2 separate regions of the Homo sapiens genome follow, and region 2 is linked to region 1. Evidence: fine-mapped expression QTL. Tissue or cell type: whole blood. Region 1 holds a variant in brackets; the other region holds the start of a gene. All regions are shown on one strand. Distances are between the middles of the regions.

What was found. PIP is the estimated chance that this variant, and not a neighbour inherited with it, causes the effect.
Region 2: SLC9B2 starts here. The variant in region 1 is fine-mapped to the expression of SLC9B2 in whole blood (TOPMed, PIP above 0.99).

What each region holds. Positions count from the first base shown.
Region 1 is chr4:103,040,248-103,051,321 of GRCh38, reverse strand. SLC9B2 (solute carrier family 9 member B2) reads left to right here. Exons shown (of 12, transcript NM_178833.7): 5 at 940-1,082; 6 at 2,302-2,429; 7 at 4,096-4,271; 8 at 6,326-6,432; 9 at 7,877-8,026. Among named protein-coding and RNA genes, the nearest start is that of SLC9B1, 26 kb to the right of the region's middle. The variant C/G (reference allele first, on the strand shown) is at 5,702.
Region 2 is chr4:103,070,399-103,081,472 of GRCh38, reverse strand. SLC9B2 (solute carrier family 9 member B2) reads left to right here and starts at 4,712. Exons shown (of 12, transcript NM_178833.7): 1 at 4,712-5,289. It overlaps BDH2 (3-hydroxybutyrate dehydrogenase 2), which reads left to right. Exons shown (of 10, transcript NM_020139.4): 10 at 1,718-3,881. The coding sequence ends at 1,771. RefSeq lists an enhancer at 4,713-4,832 and a silencer at 4,943-5,052.

The sequences.
Region 1 (11,074 bases):
AGCATGGAGGGAAGAGGCTCAGTCTCTCACAGAAACCTTTCCCTTTGTGTGGGCATGTGGTATCAATGAAGGCAGAATTCCCTCACTAACTACTCAGCTTCCTCAGTTACACTCAACTACTTGCAGTTTTCAGAATGAGTCACTTTTTCTTTTACCTTTGAATAAACTACTGTCTTTTCCAGAAACTTCTCAACTCCCCTAGCCGTTTCTTCATCCTCTTCCCCCTTCTCTAAATCCCCCTTCCTGCCTCAGCTCATGTAACATCCCCCTCATGCCTTCATAAAATTGGTATTGTCCGTTTGTCTTGTTCCCTAGAGGCTGAAAGCTTGTTGAAATGTAATCCATTATTATATGTGTGATACATACTCTAGTGTCTAAACTACTGAAGGCATTCAGTACAGTTGAATGACTGAGTGAAAGAAGAGTCACCAGCTGACATGACAGGGCAATGTCCATTTCATCATAATTGACATCTAAAACCTTTGCAAAGTAGATTATCTGTCTCTTATGAAATTATCTAATCTGAAGGTAAAATAGAATCCATATAAGTATTTATTGATATTTCAAGTAATCTGACATAGCAAATAATTTCATGCGCTGTTTGCTGTTTGCACGCAAAGGGCTGACTGAGCTGGCATTGTATTAAAACATTTTATATTTAGAATTTGATCATACTCTCTATCCAAATGCTGCATCTTGTCTCCCTTTTAAGTTCAGTTATTTTGGGAATATTAATTATTATAATCTATCTTTTTATCTGTACATTATTTTCTTAGCTGCTTTATTATACTAATTTTTACTTAAAAGTTTAACTTAATTTCTTCTAAGCATAAGTGAAGTGGTTCCTGGGATTATATAGTAGTCTGTATAAAATTAAAGTACTAAAAATATTTTCTGTATTTGAAAACTAACTAGATATGTTTGATTTCTTCGTTCAAGGCATGCTGCTTGCAGGGTTTCTCATCAGAAATATCCCAGTCATCAACGATAATGTGCAGATCAAGCACAAGTGGTCTTCCTCTTTGAGAAGCATAGCCCTGTCTATCATTCTGGTTCGTGCTGGCCTTGGTCTGGATTCAAAGGTATGAAATGTAAATTTCTCATTATTAAATAGGAATCTTGTTTCTTCAATGCTTCAGGTATCTAACAGAATCACTAAGCATTAGGAAATGGATGTGGACACTTTGCATGACATTCTTGAGAATAAAATAGAATTTATTTCATGGAGGATTGTTTTGCAAGTGAGACCTTGTTGTGGTTTGCAATAACTCAAAAGGTGGTCTCATTTTCTTCCTTTTTTTTTTTTTTTGAGACAGAGTCTCGCTCTGTCACCCAGGCTGGAGTACAGCGGCTTGATCTCAGCTCACTGCAACCTCTGTCTCCCGGGTTCAAGTGATTCTCCTGCCTCAGGCCTCCCAAGTAGGTGGGATTACAGACATGCACTACCACACCCGGCTAATTTTTGTATTTTTAGTAGAGACGGGGTTTTGCCATGTTGGCCAGGCTGGTCTCAAACTCCTGACCTCAGGTGATCTGCCTGCTTCCCCCTCCCAAAGTGCTAGGATTACAGGCATGAGCCACTGCGCCCAGCCGGTCTCATTCTCTTCCTTGGAGAAAGGTAGAGTCTGTCTATGGGGCCAGCACCAAGAATAAAGGCCCCACTTTTCTCTGATGTACATATAGACCAGGGTTATAAATAATGCTCACAGGGGAGAAAACAACATATTTTTGGTTTGCAAAGCCCTATACAAGTGTTCAGGGCTAACTATACTAGCTCAGGAAACTGCCTAATATATAAAATGAGGGTCAAGTATGCCTTTTTAATGCTTTTTTTTCATGTATGTTTTTGAATACAGGAATGAATTTTCTTGGGGGATCAGGCTCTTCACTTTAGTCTCATTCTGGGACCACAAATTATAAATAAAACTAATGAGAATGTTAAATTAGCTAGAGATTATGAACACAGATGCTGAAAGCAGCCTGCCTGGGTTCAAACCTGGCCCCATCACTCACCAGTTTCATGATCTTGGGCAAATGCCTTTAGCCTGTGCCTTTTCAGATGAGGACATCTAAAAATATGGGGATAATAATAGTATTACCTATCTTATAAGGTTGCAGTGAGGACTTAATAAGCTGTCTGAAAACACTTGGAGTGCTAAAATGTTTGTTAAATACAACTCATTACCTTGAAAACTCATGATGACCCAGACGTGGTCCATATACTGAAGAGAAAGCATTCAAGGTCATCTTCTCTGCACATCTTCAGAGGATTATATTAGGATGTCTACTTTTCTATTTCAGGCCCTGAAGAAGTTAAAGGGCGTTTGTGTAAGACTGTCCATGGGTCCCTGTATTGTGGAGGCGTGCACATCTGCTCTTCTTGCCCATTACCTGCTGGGTTTACCATGGCAATGGGGATTTATACTGGGGTAATGATTGTTTCTTTGTCATATGAAAATATGTAGGGACATTTAGGGCTTTCCCTGATTGCATACAAGAGAATGCATAATAGAATTTTCTTATAGATATCAGAAAATGCAACATAGATGTTACAGCATAATTTAAATATTCTAACTTCAAAACATAGTTTATGTGTTAATAGGCGCTAACTCTTACAGTTAGCACCTACTATTCAAACTGTTGAAGAAGTCGTGGTCTTTTGCCTACACCTGATTCAATGCCTGTTAAAGAGATACCGGATTCCACCTAACGTCTGCACAAAGGATAATAAACACAGCAACAGTGATCAACAGCTACTATTGTTTTCCTCCTGTCACCAGACTATTATGACTTGGCAGTTCTGCTGTCTCTTCGTTCCACTGTCAGTTCTTTACTTCCAACAGTTAAGAGCCACACAAAGTAAATAAATAAGACAGGACTTAGTAAGAATTTAGTGCTAATAAGAGGCAAGAAGTAAGAAATTCTTCTCATGGTTAAGTCTCTGGAACTCTACTCCCTGGATTCAAATCCCAGCCTTGTGATTTTTCCGGTGTGTGATCTTTAACAAGTATTTAATCTCTCTGTGCCTCAGTTTCCTCAATTATAAAATTAAGATAGATTTTGTCTATTTTATAGGGTTGTTGTGAGGATTAAATTAGTGAATACGTGTAAAGTGCTCAAAATGGTGTCTGGTACATAGTAAATACTGTAAAATGCTTTCTGCTGTTACCACTGCTGTTGTTACTGGTATCAATGTGACTGTCATATCGTTTTCTTCTAATCTGTTGCCTTATTTGACATAGCAAGCCCTAATAGAAGGCCTAGCATCACTGGGTTCCAAATCAGAAAGTCCATGCATTTTCAAACCTTATAACATGAATTTTTTTGTTTAAAAAAGCCAGCATCCTGGGGCCTACCCTCATTAGGCCTTCTATACCACTAATAAATATATCTTTTTAGGCAACCTAAGTAGTCTGAAGCAAGTTGTCTATGGCTACATTTTGAAAAACAGTGTTCTGTAGAAGTTTTACACATACATGTTTTTCTGGATTCATGCTTCTCTGCCATTTGAAAGACTGTAGTTGTCAATGATAGACTGGATTAAGAAAATGTGGCACATATACACCATGGAATACTACGCAGCCATAAAAAAGGATGAGTTCATGTCCTCTGTAGGGACATGGATGAAGCTGGAAACCATCATTCTCAGCAAACTATCGCAAGGACAAAAAACCAAACACCACATGTTCTCACTCATAGGTGGGAAATGAACAATGAGAACACATGGACACAGGAAGGGGAACATCACACACCAGGGCCTGTTGTGGGGTGGGGGGAGGGGGGGAGGGATAGCATTAGGAGATATACCTGATGTTAAATGACGAGTTAATGGGTGCAGCAGAACAACATGGCACATGTATACATATGTAACAAACCTGCACGTTGTACACATGTACCCTAAAACTTAAAGTATAATAAAAAAAAGAAAAAAAAACAAAAAACAATTCTTATTAAAGTTTGTTTTCTTAATTTAGAAAAAAAAAAAGAAAGACTGTTGTTGTCCAAGTATAACCCCTAAAAAGTGGAGGGCATTATAATTTCAAAATAGTAATAAGTAAGATGTTATCATAAATGTTTAAAATGCTGTCTGCCTAGTTTTGTTTTAGGTGCTGTATCTCCAGCTGTTGTGGTGCCTTCAATGCTCCTTTTGCAGGGAGGAGGCTATGGTGTTGAGAAGGGTGTCCCAACCTTGCTCATGGCAGCTGGCAGCTTCGATGACATTCTGGCCATCACTGGCTTCAACACATGCTTGGGCATAGCCTTTTCCACAGGTAACCTAATCAGTTCACAACAGGCTTTACTCTTGCATTCTAGGGACGTAGGTTAAAATGTTATAAGCATGACATATTTGCTTGATAATTGATTAAGGCAAATTAAAAATAGGCAAAAGAACACTAAGAGTTCTGTACCTAAGGAGGGTCCAGAAGCTGTCTGTCTTTACTCTCTTGCTCCCTCTAGAGACTGCTCAAGTAGCATGCAGTAGGTGCAGTACGGCAGGGGCGGTAGAAGGTAGAAAGATTTAAAGAACAGTTTCTGCTTGAAGTGATCCAGGAACGTTCAGGCTTCACACAAAAGATGTGTGGAGACTTCACACAAAAGATGTGTGGAGACTTCACACAAAAGATGTGTGGAGACTTCACACAAAAGATGTGTGGAGACTTCACACAAAATATGAGTGGGTTTTTCAAGGAGCACAAATGACAGAGAGCAGTCCAAGTGAAAGGAACAGCATGCCTTTAAAATAAGAAAAATTTCTCTTCTCTCCTCTTCAGCTTTTTATGGGTAATAACAGCAATGATTTTAATGGATGTCCCATTAATACTTAGTAAGTGTCTGAAATTGAGGTATTTTGTTTCAAGTATAGTAAAAGAGGAACTTAAGTTATTTTTTCTCCCACTGTTGTTCAACACCTATATTAAACTGATGTGAACAGATAGTACGCTTGATCTTAGCCAAAAGGCCAAAAGCAGTTCAACACTTTTATTATCCTGTGGTACAGCACAAGTTTAAGTTCATTTCTTAATCTTATGTTCAAAATTGGGATATAAAATTTGCAACATTATATGATTGACAAAGTATAATTGTAATCTAAGTTTAGCTTTAGATTCTGTAGTGGGAACACATCTTCTTGGCAGGTTATACATTCTCGTTATCTCCCTATAGTTATCTCCCCATTCTGTGATTGTGTATGATTTATGCCTGTTACCTAGAATCCCACCCTGTCTCATTGCTCCAGAGCCTGCCTTCCATCCATTCCCTAGTAAATTGATTTTCTTAAAACATTGTTTTCATTACATTACTTTCTTGTTCAAGAACCTTTGAGGATGCTCTCTTACCTATTAAGTCAAATTCATACTCCTATTTTTAATGCTACTACACATACCCAAATTTATGTTCTTACCACTTTCCTGGTATATACCTTTAAAACAATTGTTCTCAGCCTTACCATCACACTAGAATTACCTGGGCGATTTTTAAAAATACTCTTATGTAGGTCCTATCTTAGACAATTAAATCAGAACCTTTTGGAGTGGAAACCAGTGCAGCTTGGAATAGGAACCACAGCTTTAGAGCAACAGAGTTTGCATTAGAATCATGGTGGTGGGAGGAGAAAGGAAAGAGGCAGTGGGGTTTTCATAAGCTACAGCTCGAAGAACCTTCCTAGTTGACTCTGCTGTGTTTCCTCTCCCCGCCCCACCCC[C/G]CCACCAACTACGTGTGGTCCTTAGACCTTTTGGATCTGAGCCCTGCTAGACTTACTGAATCAGATTTTTAGGGGTGGGGCCCAAGACTTTTTTTTTTTAATCACCTCAATATACCAGAGACTAAAGCTAATTAGCTACTTTCTACACATTCATAGTAAATTATTACCACAATAGCTTAAGCATAATGCTACTATCACAACTAGATGTTTTTAACAGTCATAGCATTACCTGGTAGAAAGCGATCCTAGCTAAATAAAATTACTTCAGAGGTAATTTTATTTAGATAAGAAGAATGATTGCCATAATAACAAGAGACCACAGAAACCAGTTAGTACATTTTTCTTAGGACAGTCTGTGAAGAAGTGCTTTATGTGTGGAGAAACTTTAATATAATTTTCTGCACAATGTGCTAACAAAAAATTTTTTTTAATTAAAGTTTCCTAAATCCTATATGCTATGGGGGAAAATGTAGGTTCCACTTACATATTTAAGAATATGGAAAGCAGAAACTGTCTTTAAAATGTTTCTTCTTTGTAATTAGATGCTTCATGTTGATGATTGTGGAATAAAACCTGTGTATTTGTTGGATTTAGAGCTCTAAGTTTTTTTAATATATTTTTCAGGCTCTACTGTCTTTAATGTCCTCAGAGGAGTTTTGGAGGTGGTAATTGGTGTGGCAACTGGATCTGTTCTTGGATTTTTCATTCAGTACTTTCCAAGCCGTGACCAGGTGAAAGAAATAATATGTGGGAAAGTTGTGCTCTGAAATATCATTGGGAAAACATTCTAGAACACTTCCTTCAAAGACAGATGTGAAGGACATGTTTGAGCAAATGGTTCCTCATTTTAAAATTGCTTACTGCTATCCATGAGATTTATGAAGTGGGCTCAATATAGAAGATTTTAATGCAGTCCTGTAATGGGTTCCCGTATTATATTCTGTACATTTCAAATTCCACTGTAAAACAAATAATATCGTTCCAAAGTAATAGGATATGCAAGTTTTTTAAGTGTTCATAATACTCAACTAAACCCAGATATATAATAGCTTTTTTGTGCCCTTTTTTAGTATCAAAATACCTTAGATTCTAGCCAGGCCTGGTAGTCCCAGCCACTCAGGAGGCTGAGGCAAAAGGATCCCTCTGGGAGTTTGAGTCCAGTCTGGGCAACACAGCAAGAGCCCATATCTAATACATACATGCATACACACATACATAAATCAGTCAATCATCATCTAGTGCCACTTTGTTCAGTACAGTAGCCACTAGCTACACGTGGCTATAGCAGATACAGAACATTTCCATCATCACTAAACATTCTATTGGAAAACACTGCTCTAGTACAACCGACAAAATAGTTCATAAAGAGATTTCTATTACTATGACCATTTTACTGATAAGGAAATTGAGGCTTAGGCAGGATAAGTGACTTGAACAAGGTCACATAGCTAGAAAGCGGTGGAACTGGGAATGAACTCAGGTAATTCACCTTCAGAGCTTGCATGCCTTTGCCAAGTCAAGCACTTTTAAAGACCTACTTTCTAAAGTGATCAAGAAGTTTAAAAGCCTGGACAGGGAAAAGTAAAGGGAAAAAAAGTACACAATTCTTAGACTTTAAAACAACAGCAACAAAAACTACTGTCAGTCTAGAACCTCTTAAAGCTTCCTGGTTTCCAAAGATTTAGAAAGAAAAACCAAGGGGGCGTCAAATTTAAAACAGTAAACATAGAGCCTGAAAATAATAGAGATATATATTTAACCTTCACACAAACCCTATGATGTAAATGCTTTCAGGAAACAAAGCTTGGAGTGGTTAAGTAATGTGGCTACTACATACACCAACAATGTATAAAAACTATAAATTTAACCTTGGTCTGTCCAGCTCCAAAGCTCATGTACTTTTTTTCTGCTACTTCATTAAGTGCTGTGAAATTCTGCATTGATAACTGTAGAGGAGAGAATTGGTGTTCCTGAAAGAAGAGCTCACCATTGCAGTGTGCTAACTCTGCTTTTGTTTAAGAAGAGAAAGTAAATGTTATGTAGTGCACTTGTTTTGTCTATTTATATAGACATTTTAATTTTTATTTTCTTTCTAAATCCTAGATATGGAAAAAATCAATCATTAAAAATCAGGGATTTGAAATAATTGAGCAAATGAATTTTTTTCTCCTAAAGGACAAACTTGTGTGTAAGAGAACATTCCTTGTGTTGGGGTTGTCTGTGCTAGCTGTGTTCAGCAGTGTGCATTTTGGTTTCCCTGGATCAGGAGGACTGTGCACGTTGGTCATGGCTTTCCTTGCAGGCATGGGATGGACCAGCGAAAAGGTGAATTTCATTTTAAGTTTTTCTGCTCATGACTCTTTTCTAATGAGATTAAGTTGGCTTTCCAGATACTTTCTTAGCATCAAATTAATAAAGTATTTCATTATAAAAGCTATCTTAATGTGCATATACAAATGTACACCCAGTGTTCATCTTTTTTTTCCCCTTACACATCAATCTATAACTTGATGTCTTTACTTAAAATATATCATGGTCATACTACCGTAATGCCTTCCTTATTCTTTGTAATGGCTACGGAGTATTGCATTTTATAGATATTTACGTTGTTTCTAGTTTTCTGCCAAGATAAACAGTGCTTCAATAATATATCCTTACATACCATATTTCATCTGAGTCTGTCAATTCTAAAAAACACAATTATTTTATATGACACCAAGAAAGAAAAAAAATAGTGCCAATTAAACGATAACATAACATTCTAATTTCAGAAATGTTAAAATATAAAAATATGTGTCTTAAAATAAATAAAATATAGTATATATTTTAGTTTATACAATAAATTTCTAGAAATCAGATTGCTCTAGGAAAGAGTACTCACATTTATACTTTTGATAATATCAATATGACCTTTTAAAAGACTGTACCAATTTATATTTTTACCAATATTATGTGAGAGGATCTGTTTTTCTGATCTAAGTCTTTGAGATATTTTGCTGATATTATGAATTAAAAATATATCTCATTATTATTCTGATTTTCATTTCTTTATGGGCAATGCTAATCATGTTTTCATATGATTACTACCCAGTTTGTTCAAAAGCCTTTGCCATTTTTATAAGGTTGCTTTGGTTTTTCATACTGATTTTCAAGATTATTAAGAATATTCATTTGGTTTATATGTATTATGGAAGTTCACTAGTTGTCATTTATTTATTTTAATTTTCAGATTCATTTTTGTAGATTTGAACTTGATAGGATTGTATGCTATTCTGCTTAATGAAGATGTCGGTGACCTAAAATAAATGCAGCTATATCATTTTGTGATAATCTTACAAAGCCTGAAGACAACTGTTCAAAATAATTAAACTTAAATAATTAAAATAATGCCATATGGAAAATATGGAAACGTTACAAATTTTGAGATGAGATATATAATCATAACTCAATTAAGTGGATCTCTGTGGGGATCTTCCATAGACAGCATTCACTGTGGGTAAATAACATTCATTCTCATATCAACAGTGTAACAGAAATGCATTCTGTCACCAGCTCTTTAAAAATCTTTGCAAATTGAAATCAACTCATTATATTATACTGTCATGGGTAAAAAGAGAAAAAGGAATTAATAAATTTTTGTTGCTACGCTGTATGGCTCTGTATGAGGCACTAAGTGGATATGGTCATTTATTTTCACAAAATTACCTTTGAAAAGTATTATGATTTCTACCTTATAGAAGCTGTAAGTCAGAAAGACTTAAATAACATGTCCAAGGTCACACAATTAGAAAATGGCACGGAGATTTAAGCTCAGATTAATTTGACTCCAAGGTGAGTTGTACTATGCTGTAGTACAACTGTAGCATTATTGTGCATGACACAATTTTATATTTTGACATCTGTTTGAGTAACACTTACCATGTGTATTTAAACATAATTCTAAACTTTTGCAGTTTAAAATTCAGCTTCTAAATTCATAAATGATAGGATAAAAAGAATAAACAATGAGAAGGAGCAATATCATTTGAAACAGAGCATAAAAAAGTAGTTTTAGCAACAGAGAAATGAAGGAGAGACTGATACCTCCTGCAAGTGGGCACTGGATAAGAGCACAGAAAGAAAAAGGAGGGAAAGGGAAACTGATCACTTCCGATTACACTGTTATTCAGAGAAACTATAATGTGGTTATCTATAAATGATTCTTATAAACCAAACCATTGTTCCCTTTGTTTACATTTCCTGTAGTCCTGCTATGTAGAAGGTCAGTGTAACCCCACAACCAGAAAGATAACTATTAACATTTTTAAAAATATTTACCTCTAGTAACTCTGCTATGTGAATCTCTTTATCTACACACATGGATGCACCATAGTTGGGTTTTTGGTTTTTTTACCCATTCCTTTATATATAGTTATAAGGTTATTTCCAGTCTCTGCTATTTTAAATTATGCTGAAATGATCAGAAATTGATCACTTCCTTAAGGAATATTCCTAACAGTAAAATTTGGGGGTGAAATAATATGAACATTTTGAGGTTTTCGACACATATTACCAGACTGCTTTCTAGAGTTCTATCCATTTACTTTTCTACCAGTAAAATATGAAGTACCTGTCTCATTACAACTTCACCTTAGAATAGTTTTCTCAAACTTTAGCAGAATTACCTAGAAGGATTGTTAAATTTGAGTTCTGGGCCCTACTACAAATTTCTGATTTTAGACTGTGGTGGGGCTTGAGAATTTGCACGTAATTAATTTCCAGATGAGGCTGATGCTGCCAGTCTAGGGACCACACTGTGAACCACTGGCTTAAAATATTATTGCTTTTAATCTTTAGCCATACTGATAGGTAAAAAGTTGCATCTTGTTTATTTTGTGTTTCTTTAACAGTGAAATTGAACAGTTTTTCACATATTTAGACACTTGTGTGTTTTTTCTTTTTCTTTGGTAGGTCTTTTGTTCATTATCTTCCAAAGTATAATGTGTGTTGATTATCCATCTGTAAGATACACCCCCAATACACACATCTATATAAGTGATGACACAGTCTTGATTACCCTGGGCTTATCTTTTATACACAGCCTATTCAATGACTCCATTTTGTTTATAGGCAAATTCATTTTAGTTTTGGCATTATGAAAAACCCACAAGAAGATACGTTGTAACTTTTCTGTTTTTCTGTGTTTTGCAATATATAAGCCCATGTCTGATGTTCAACTAGTCTGAAGCATTATAATCAAAATACAAATTGTGGCCTTTGTCTACACTTTAGAAATAAAAAATAATTTGATATAGAAATCTTTTTAGTCCTTCTACTTTCATTACTATTCTGAGTGTATGAAATACATTTGAGGACTTCTGTTAAACAATTAGT
Region 2 (11,074 bases), 30 kb before region 1:
AACAGAAAATAGCTGAGCGTGGTGGCGGGCGCCTGTAGTCCCAGCTACTCGGGAGGCTGAGGCAGGAGAATCGCTTGAACCAGGGAGGCGGAGGTTGCAGTGAGCCGGGATTGCGCCACTGCACTCCAGCCTGGGTGACAGAGTGAGACTCCGTCTCAAAATAAATAAATATTTTTAAAAATTCTTACTTGTTCATCATCGTGTATGGAAATTCCTAATTTAATCTCTTCCACTTTGCATCTGTTTAACAGTTTTTTCCTTAATAACTATTGTTTACTTTTAAATGGCTTAAGATGAAAGCAAAAATGATGCTTATAAGGTATAGAGCACAAGAAGGTCCTCCTCTGTTTTATGTCTCTGAATACTACAGGAACAAGGAACTGTAATGTGTGAGAAGAGGGAAGGAAAGGGGACTAGGCGGGAGCGAGGAGGGAACAACTGATAGCTCCTCTTCCCAGTAACTTGGTGCACACCAGATAGTTGGTGAATGTGACAAATACAGGGATTGAAATGTTTCCGTGACAGCGCAGTTTCTTCTCAGAACTTCTCCCAACTATTAACAACAATTGTTAATAGCTGGGGAAATTAATAGACAAATGTTTAATGAAGAAGCACATGAGCCTTTGTGATTTCTCTGAATCCGTATCTTCAGAATAGCTCATTTGATTTGGGTACTGCTGATAAGCTAAATTACCCTTAGTTAGCCAGAGCTTAGGTTACAAGATATTTGGAAGTGTTGTGGCTTGAAATGTGCTACAAAAGTACCTTTGGCTTTTTAGAGGTTTCCAGAGGAGTTCATATGTGTAACAGAGCTTGTCTTTTAAAAGAACTTGGGGGAGTTGGAGGTATTTCTTTGGTGAAGTGACTAATAACTCCCTAGTTCACCTACTGTATATTATCAGCTTTTATCTATTGAACTCTTAAAATTTCTCTATTCATTATGATATCCTTACTTCCTCTTCCATTGTTTCAGGCTTCAGATGAATTTAGACTGTTTGAGTCTTTATTATCCATTTTAAGTTAAAAGATTTTTAAACTTCTACCAAAAAGATCACTTCAGCCTTATTTAGAAAATGAAAAATTTATGGGAATAAACCAGTAATTATTTTTTAAATTCCTTAGTTTTATAAAGATTTGGATATCTGAAACTAATATAGAATATTTTTATAGCTTAATGGATTATAGTTATTATCATTCATGTAAATTTTTAAAACACATTTAGTGTGCTTCAGCTCCTACAATTATCCACTTATAATTGATCAACTAAATATATGCTGTCTTTTTTAAAAAACTGGTCATTAATATGACCATTTTATGACTGATACACTTATGTTCAAAAGTTTATTAGTGGCATAAAACTTAGCTAGTTTTGAATAGTTCTGAGTTTCAAAATGAAAATGTGCTTTTAGCCTATATCCTAATTTGGGGAATGGCTATACATCACTGTTCCTTAATTTGGGGATTCTGAGACCAAATACCTAACAGTGACAGGTGCTTAGACACCAGCCAGAGGCCATTTAGTTCCAGATCACAGGACACTCAGCAGTTCTAAATCAACCAAATGTTAATTTGGATTTCCCTGAATTAAGTGTTTAAGTGAGGTTTCCTGTTAGGACAAGGGTAAATTGTTTAGTTATCCTAGTCACAGGAAAATTTCAAAATACAGCCTGTATCAAACCTGGTTAATTGTTCTGTCTCCTTGTGTTTATCACTGCAGTCTGCTTATGTAACTGGTAACCCTGTCATCATTGATGGAGGCTGGAGCTTGTGATTTTAGGATCTCCATGGTGGGAAGGAAGGCAGGCCCTTCCTATCCACAGTGAACCTGGTTACGAAGAAAACTCACCAATCATCTCCTTCCTGTTAATCACATGTTAATGAAAATAAGCTCTTTTTAATGATGTCACTGTTTGCAAGAGTCTGATTCTTTAAGTATATTAATCTCTTTGTAATCTCTTCTGAAATCATTGTAAAGAAATAAAAATATTGAACTCATAGCAGGAGAATAGTTTTTAAAATAAATCTCGATTTGTTAGCATCTGTCTTAGTCACTTTGGGCTGCTATAACAAATTACCATAGATGGAGTGTCATAGACAACAAACATTTATTTTTCAGTCTGGAGGCTAGGAAGTGCAAGATAAAGGTGCCAGCAGATATAGTTTCTGGTTAGGGCCCACTTCCTGGTTTGCAGATGGTCCTCTTCTTGCTGTATCCTCACATAGCAAGAGCAGAGAAAAAAAGCGAGCGCTCATGTGTCTTTTTATAAGGACACTAATCCTGTTCATGAGGGCACTACCCTTATGACCTGATTACCTCCCAAAGGCCCCACCTCCTAATGTATCATATTGCAGGTTAGGATGTCAACACATGACTCTGGGGTGATACAAATAGGCCATTGCAGCATATACAATTAAAATGTAAATATGAAGAAAAAAGGAAGTTTTTGTTTTTTTGTGGGGGAGATGGGGGTTAAGGAAGAAGATAGTAATTTCAGGACTAGGCATGGTAGCTCATGCCTATAATTCCTGCACTTTGGGAGGCCAAGGCAGGAGGATCACTTGCGGCCAGGAGTTCAGGACCAGCATGGTTAACAGAGGCTAAGGCAGGAGGATTACTTGAGCCCAAGAGTTTGAGGCTGCAGTGAGCTGTAATCATGCCACTGCACTCCAGGGTGACAGAGCAAGACCCTGTACCTAAATAATAATAATAATTTCCACTTCATTTTTCAATATTCAAATATTTTTATATAATTCTGCATTGTTCTGTATGTAGATCCTAATTTTAAAATTTTACACCATCATAAATGAACAAAGGTAGGAAGGAGTTTGGCTTCAATAGCTTACAGTAAAAGGAGTAAAGGAGTTCAGCCTCAAAACGATATTGTTGACCTGTTATGTTATGAAAAATAATCCAGTGTTTATACTTAACGGATGCCATCCCTTATTATTTACTATTTTCTTAGTCTAACTAAACAATCTTTATTAAAATAAGCAATGATATTTGACATGGGCCTAAGAAATATATAGTTAGCTAACAATATTGTCAGTTAGAGGGATTTCTTTTCTAAATTAAGTACAGATTTCTTCACCAAACTCCAGGATAACAGAAAAGAGGACATAAAATTTGGACATAGTTTCTGGATAAATAAATGTAAATTTAAATATAAATTATGTAACAGGAAACAAACGAAATTAAAGAAAATAAATTTTTCAAGAAAAGTAAATTTATGGATGTTAATTCTGTAACATTGTCAGGGCAAAGTTTTTTGTTTTTATTTTAATTTAAGGGTTTTATGTTTGTTTTTTACTTGTTGCAACCTCAAATGACCAAATGGTATGATGCACACTGAGATACTCAATAAATGTGCAGTGATTCTTAGCCTTTTTTCCTAGAACTTTAATATTAACATGGAAAATTCTGAAATGGACAACAAAAAGATAACACTTTGTGTATGGGGAAGAATATCATGCAGTTGATGACGGTACATTAAAATTCACACAAAAGGACATTTTGACTAGCATTCAGAAAGAGTCCATTGATTATAAGATTATCTATGAGGTTTTGGACCGGGCACTACACTACCGAATTATGGCTAACTTTGGTTTGTGATCTAGACCAAGTCACCCAATCTATCTTGGATTTTAGTTTTCTGGTTTATGAAATTAAGGAGTTAAGCTAAATGACTTGGGTTTCTTTTCGTGTATCATAATCAAAATGCTGTAACTTCTCTAGTGAATTCATAGAACACTGACTCTTACAAGTATGTCATGAAATACTTTATGCTGTGAGCAGGTATACATGTATAATATATGTATAGCTATGAACAAATAAATTTTAAATAAATGCACAACGAATTCTACAAAATGGGCTCCAACATTAACAAATGATCTGAGTTAGTCTTTCTCACAGCCGACCATAAACTATAAAACATTTTTATAAACACTATCAGCAATAAAAACGAAGTAAAATCTAGCCAAAAAATTCAATGTTCTCCAAAGTCATGTTAATCAAATCAGGTGATATATTAATGAAGTACATATGACTAAAAGGAAAAATATATGTCATTCCTGTGGTAAGAGGAAGCTGAATGTCACTAGAAATTTTTACAAGCTTTAGGAGAGGAAGAGTTCCGTTTAGGAAAATAATCATTTCAGATGATCTGAAGAAGGGTATTGGATGGAACCTATCCAATAGGTTCATCACAAAAGAGGACCTGAGAGACAAGAATGAATGGTTTCTGACTGGTGGAGAAATTTGAGGATAATCTCCCTTGCTTGAAAAGCGGTGATTAAGATTGGCACTTGCTTACAGGAGTGAAAAACAGGTAAGGGGTGCGCGCGTCTTAACACACACAAGAGGAAATACAGAGAAAAGGAAGACACAAACATGAAATGAGAATTAAATGAAATAGAATCACACTGCTGATAGAAGGGTTAAAAATCTAAAATACAACAAGAAGGGCAGGTGTTAAGCGATAAAGGGGGGCAGAACAAGTCTTTTATCCGGCCATTTAATTGGTCACCTTAAGAAAGAATCCTATCTTCCCACCGCAGCTGAGAAGACACTTCTAAGAGGTACAGCTAAAAGGTGGAGGACTGATAGACAACTTAGAGGTTGGTTTCGGGAACGATAAAACAAGTAACGGGCTGCCCGGCCTGCGCCGCGGAGTCCCGAGGAGCCTGCGCTGTGCTCCTCTCGCGGTGTCTCGTCATCTCCGGGAAGACTCGGCGCCTGGGTCCGCGCTCTCTGGGTAAGCTTTCCGGGAAGCTTTCCCGGGAGCTCGCTGGTCCTGGCCCCAGAAGCCTGCGGACCCGCCCAGGGAGGATAAGCAGCTGAAAGACCGCGCGGTGCCGCTCCGAGGCCCCGGGACGTGGGCCCATGGTCGGCCTGGCGCCACCTTTCCGGGGGAAGCCACGCGCACCAGGCATCGCACGCGGCTCTGCACCCGCGCCGCCGGACCTGAAACCCGGCGGAGGGCACACGGGGCTGCCGCTGCGGGCCCCGGACCAACCCATGCTTACTCCGGAGCCTGTACCGGCGCCGACGGGTCGGACCTCCCTGCGCGGTGTCGCCCAGCGGGTTCGTGCGAAAGGCGGGGCCGACTACACGCGGTGCCGCGCCCTGAGACCGTTTATCTGCAGTCAACGCAGCCTCCCGGCTCAGCCTGGGAAGATGCGCGAATCGGGAACCCCAGAGCGCGGTGGCTAGACCGGGCTCCGCCGCCTCCCCCACAGCCCCTTTCCTAATCGTTCAGACGGAGCCTGGTCGACTTCGCCGGAGACTGCCAGGTGAGAGGCCCCAGAGACACTAAGGGTAAAAATAAACCCAGCGCCAGCGGCGGGTACCCTGTAGGCCTGCTGGACCGGAGACGCGAGCGAGGGGCCCAGCCTTTTCTGTTTGTACACCCGGTGACGGGCGCGTGTCTGTTTACTGTTGTAAGGTGTTGGCGTGGGTTTTCTTGCTTGCTTTTATTTTAGTTCTCAGATTAACCAGAGGGGGTGTTGCCTTTGTGGACTGGGTTAGCATCCTCGAGGTGCTAAGAATCATCGTATGCTATTGACTGAAGAATATAACCTTAAGACAGCAGTAGCTGCTGTAAGAGATAAAGTAAAACATCTCAGTAACTAAACATAGTTCAGGCTTATTTCTCGTTCATGTCAAGTCCATTCACGTGTTCAGCTGTTGGCCTTCTACTCAATTATTCAGGAACCCAAACTCCTTTTATATTATGGCTTTGCTATCCCCTAAGACCTTGGAGTCCTTAGTTTCCAGGCAACGGACAGAAAAAGAAAAGCTACTAGAGGATTGCATGAGGATTGTTTCTTATGGGTGAGGACTGGAAATCACATACTATTTATGTCCACATGCCATTGACCAGACTTCAGTCACATGCCACACTGACCTGCAAGGGAGACTGGAAATGTACTATGGACCCAGGCAGAAGAGTAAACGATTTTGGTAAACACATATCAGTCTCTGACCATCCCTTAAAGGGCAGACTGCATCTTAGTCATCTTTGTTACTCTTGTGCCTATCACACCAGAGAAACTTGTTAAGGCTTTGTGAGGCCGAGGTGGGCATATCACCTGAGGTCAGGAGTTCGAGACCAGCCTAGCCAACATGGTAAAACCCCATCTCTACTAAAAATATAAAAATTAGCTGGGCATGGTGGTGCACGCCCGTAATTCCAGCTATTCCGGAGGCTGAGGCTGAAGAATCGCTTGAACCCAGGAGGCACAGGTTGCAGTGAGCCAAGATTGTGCCACTGCACTCCAGCCTAGGTGACAGAGCAAGACTCCATCTCAGAAAAGAAAAAAAAGGAAATGAAACTTGTTAAGGGATGGGGTTGTTATGTGTCTAAAGTTGAAACTTAACCATATTTCATTGTGATTGCTTAGGAATCATTTATCATCCTTTATCATCCTGTAACTAGATTACAAGATCTGAATATAGGAACTATTTAAGACCGTTCACTTCTGAATCCTCAGCTCAAGGACTGGGACGTAACAAGAGCTTAATAGCTCTTGTTTGTTGAATGAATGAATGAATCATCAGAGAGGAAAACGAGGGAGACAGTTTGTCAATGTTGGAGTTAGGAAATACTGAGAAGGTGACATTTGAGTTAGATTTTGAATTTCTTCAAGTAGAAAAAGCAGAAATGAAACTCCAGGCAGCAATAGTAGTGATATTTTATTGTTGTTGTTTTGTTTCATGAGTGGAAATTTGGAAAACAACCAAACGTTTATAAGTCCAACTTTTCTTCATTCAGTATTCAAATATTACAATTTAACTTCAGGGTAGAGGAGGGGAAATACATAATCTTACAATCCAAATAATTTCTGTTGACTAAAAGAATGGCAGTGAAAACCTTGGCACTAATTTTTAACTTTATAAAATGTTATTTTCTGGACATTTTTGAGAAATTTCAATACAAAGGCAGTGTTCTGATCATTCATTGTCTATGATGATTTTGCACTGTAACAAGAAGCTAGAAAGATAGAAACTAAAGTTTGTAAGACAGAGGTTCCTCATCACTGCTGTTCATCAGGGCTTCTCAGGGATGGTTCTGCAACAAAATCACCTGTTATATTGGTTAGGATGCTTTTGGCTGCAAGTAACAGGATATTCAGCCAAAACTCCCTTCAAAAATACAGATGTACTTTGCTCATACATGAAGATGTTTGAAGGTAGGTGGGTCCAGGGTTTGTTCAGTAGCTCAGTAATATCAGGGCTCTATGTTGCTTTCTGTGTTCAGCTAATCTTGACTTTTCTTCATGGGTGAATGATGGCTGCTAGAATTGTCCCAAGAAACCCATCCACAATCCCAACTTCCCTTGCCTCTTTACCTGGTCATTTAAAGACAAAAAGAGGAGAGGATTTTCCTCCTCTCTCTCTGTCTTTATTAAGAAGGAAAATCTTATGTAATATGCCCCAATAGTCTTGCCTACAAATTCCAATGGCAAGAAATGAATCATGCTCACTCCTTAGCCAATAAGTGGCAAAGAGGAATGGTGTTACAGAGATTGATTTACACCAATAATGACTTATCCCTAGGGCGGGAGAAGGGTCCTACTGGCATACCTGAACACTTGGCATTTAGACAGGCCATAAGTCATGTCTGTCCCACTTGGGGTAGATTCGGTCTCTGTAGATTCTGATTTTAGTGGGCCTAGAAATAATATTTTAAACTTTTAGTAAGTATATTTCACTTTGGTGAGGAGAGAGAATAGAAAGGATGAAAGCAAGTATTGGGTCCCTTATGTAGGGGTAATTTCCTTTTATTCTTATCTCATTATATAGTGTTTTCCTTCATGAGTCAATGAAATTACTAAATCAATTAACCAAATAAAATAGCGGTTGTTTTCCTTTGGTAACTTGGCCACATGTATTTGACACACCTAAGTCTTTCAGATAAGGTAGTTCTCATTCAGGGAAACACTGTTAGTCATTTTAGTAATTAATTGTCTAAGAAAGTGTTAAGCCCTACTCTGAGCCTGATCTGAATTCCTCATTGCTGGGTAGGGCTCCTTTTGGGAAATGACCATTAGATCAGTGTTGATAAGCAAATACAGAAACTGGAATGTTTCTGTATGTTCTATGTAGAAATACTGTATGAGACTGAGAACCTATACGTTCAACACATGAATGGATGAACACAAAGGCAGGAGATTGTTGTTATTATTATCATTATAGAGTATTGAACAATCATAGTGATGCTCTTTCAAAGGCATGAATACAACCCAGAGTACTCTAGCAATGTCTTAGTCCATTTTTGTTACTGTAACAAAATACCACAAACTAATTAATTTATAAATAATCAAATTTATTTCTCACAGTTCTGGAGGCTGGGAAGTCCTAGGTCAAGGTGCTAATTAGATTTGATGTCTGTTACACACTTGATCTCTGCTTGCAAGATGGTGCCTTCTTGCCATGTCTTCTTCACATGGAGGAAGAGACTAATGCTGTGTTCTCAGATGGTGGAAGGGAAAGAGCCAAAGGGACTAGGCTGCTCCCTTTGACCTCTTTTATAAGAGCACTAGTCCCATTCATGAGGGTTGAGTGCTGGTGACTTAATCACTTCCCCAAAGTACCTCCCTCTTAATACCATCACCTTGGCAGTTACATTCCAAAATCTGAATTTTGGAGGGACACAAACATTCAAGCCATAGCAAGCAATATATGTAAATTCTCCATAAGATTACTCCTTTAAATGTCAGCCTATCCAAATCACAGGCAGCAAATAGCAAGAATAAAAAGTCTTTATCCATATCTTTTAGCAGTAACTGAAATGATAGCAGTAAGTCTATTTTACTTGACCGAGAGCCTACGGACATTTGTAAGTTGATAGTTCCTTTATTTCTTCTGGAATATTACAGAAAGTACTTGTAAACATTTACATTAGTAAGATAATATGAAAAAGAGAACATTTAACAAATATCTCTCTATGTGAAAACATATTTACAGAAATGGTTTCCAAAGTATGCTCCACTTGCCAGAAGGAACAGGGGTGAGTAGACAGGGCTCCTGCAGCGCCACCTTAGTCGTTCCATTTGTAGGATTTAAGGATTAGGTTTCATTTGATGAAAGATATTTGACATAAAGATATGAAGACCAGGGCTGGGTGCGGTGGCTCACGCCTGTAATCCCAGCACTTTGGGAGGCCAAGGCGGGCAGATCATGAGGTCAGGAGTTTGAGACCAGCCTGGCCAACATGGTGAAACCCCATCTCTACTAAAAATAGAAAAAGTAGCTGGGCATGGTGGCCGGCACCTTTAATCCCAGCTACTCGGGAGGCTGAGGCAGGAGAATAGCTTGAAACCGGAAGGCAGAGGTTGCAGTGAGCTGAGATCTCGCCACTGCACTCCAGCCTGGGCAAAAGAGCGAAACTCCACCTCAAAAAAAAAAAAAAAAAAAACATGAAAGCCAAACTTGAAAATTTTGAAAACCACTGCTATTGGTGATTCTGGGCAGTTACTCATCTTCTTTGAAAAATCACAACTACAAAAAATGATTTTAAATTGTGGCAGGTGTTATTAAGTTACCTCAAATCAAATCACCAGACTGTATCTATGAGAAATATTACCAAGAAATGTGGTACCATTTTCTTTTCTCTAAAGCTTTAGGAATTGAGTAGATTATTTTTAAATGTATTTAAAATTAGGGCCAGGCAGGGTGGCTCACATCTCTAATCCCAGCACTTTAGGAGGCCAAGGCCAGTGGATCACTTGAGGTCAGGAGTTTGAGACCATTCTGGCCAACATAGTGAAACCCATCCCTATTAAAAATACAAAAATTAGCCGGGTGTGGTAGCTCACACCTGTAATCCCAGCACTTTGGGAGGCTGAGGCAGGTGGATCATGAGGTCAAGAGATCGAGACCATCCTGGCCAACATGGTGAAACCCCGTCTCTACTAAAAATACAAAAATTAGCAAGGGATGGTGGCATGTGCCTGTAGTCCCTCAGGAGGCTGAGGCAGGAGAATCACTTGAACCTGGGAGGTGGAGGTTGCAGTGAGCTGAGATCGTGCCATTGCAATCCCTCTTCAGCCTGGTGACAGAGTGAGACTCCTTCTAAAAAAAAAAAAAAAAAAAATACAAAAATTAGCCAGGCGTGGTGGTGCATGCCTCTAGTCCTAGCTACTTGGGAGGCCAAGGTAGGAGAATCACTTGAACCGAGGAGGCGGAGGTTGCAGTGAGCCAAGATCATGCCACTGCACTCCAGCCTGGGTGACAGAGCGAGAATCCATCTCAAAAAAACAACAACAACAACAACAAAATATATATATATATCAAATTACATAAGAAAATCCTACATAAGAAAATCTTTCTTAGAAAATAAGAAAGAAAGTCCAGCCACTCCTCTTCCATTTCCCTTCCCAAAGGCAACTGCTGTTAAAGGATTTTTTTTTTCTGTTTCCTTCTTAACAGGTACATATATCAAACTGCTTATATTCTTGATCTCTTAAGGACAATTCTTTCAAGTGGGGAGAAAAGGTTAAGAAAACTTTTTTCTTTTTTCTTTTTTTATACAGTCTTGCTCTGTCGCCCCCACTATAAATGACTCTTAGATTGCTGTCTTTTTCATCTCTTTCACTGTCATCAGTCACTAATGCTGCTCTCAATTTGCCTCTATCACAGCAATCTCTTCCTGAATTTTAATATTTAACACCTAATCTTCTGAGGGTTTGAAAAACAAAGGAGCAAAGTCATTAGAATTGTTTTCGAAATAAGGGCCGGGCATGGTGGCTCATGCCTGTAATCCCAGCATTTTGGGAGGCCTAGGCGGGTGGATCACTGAGGTCAGGAGTTGGAGACCAGCCTCGCTGACATGGCGAAAACCCATCTCTACTAAAAATACAAAAAATTAGCCAGGCGAGGTGGCGGGCACCTGTAATCCCAGCTACTCAGAAGGCCGAGGCAGGAGAGTCTCTTGAACCCAGGCGGCGGAGGTTGCAGTGAGCTAGGATCATGCCACTGCACTATAGCCTGGGCAACAGAGGGAGACTTCGTCTCAAAAATCAAACAAACAAACAAAACAAAATAAGGGTTAATGGGCTCTGCATGAGTCCTTAA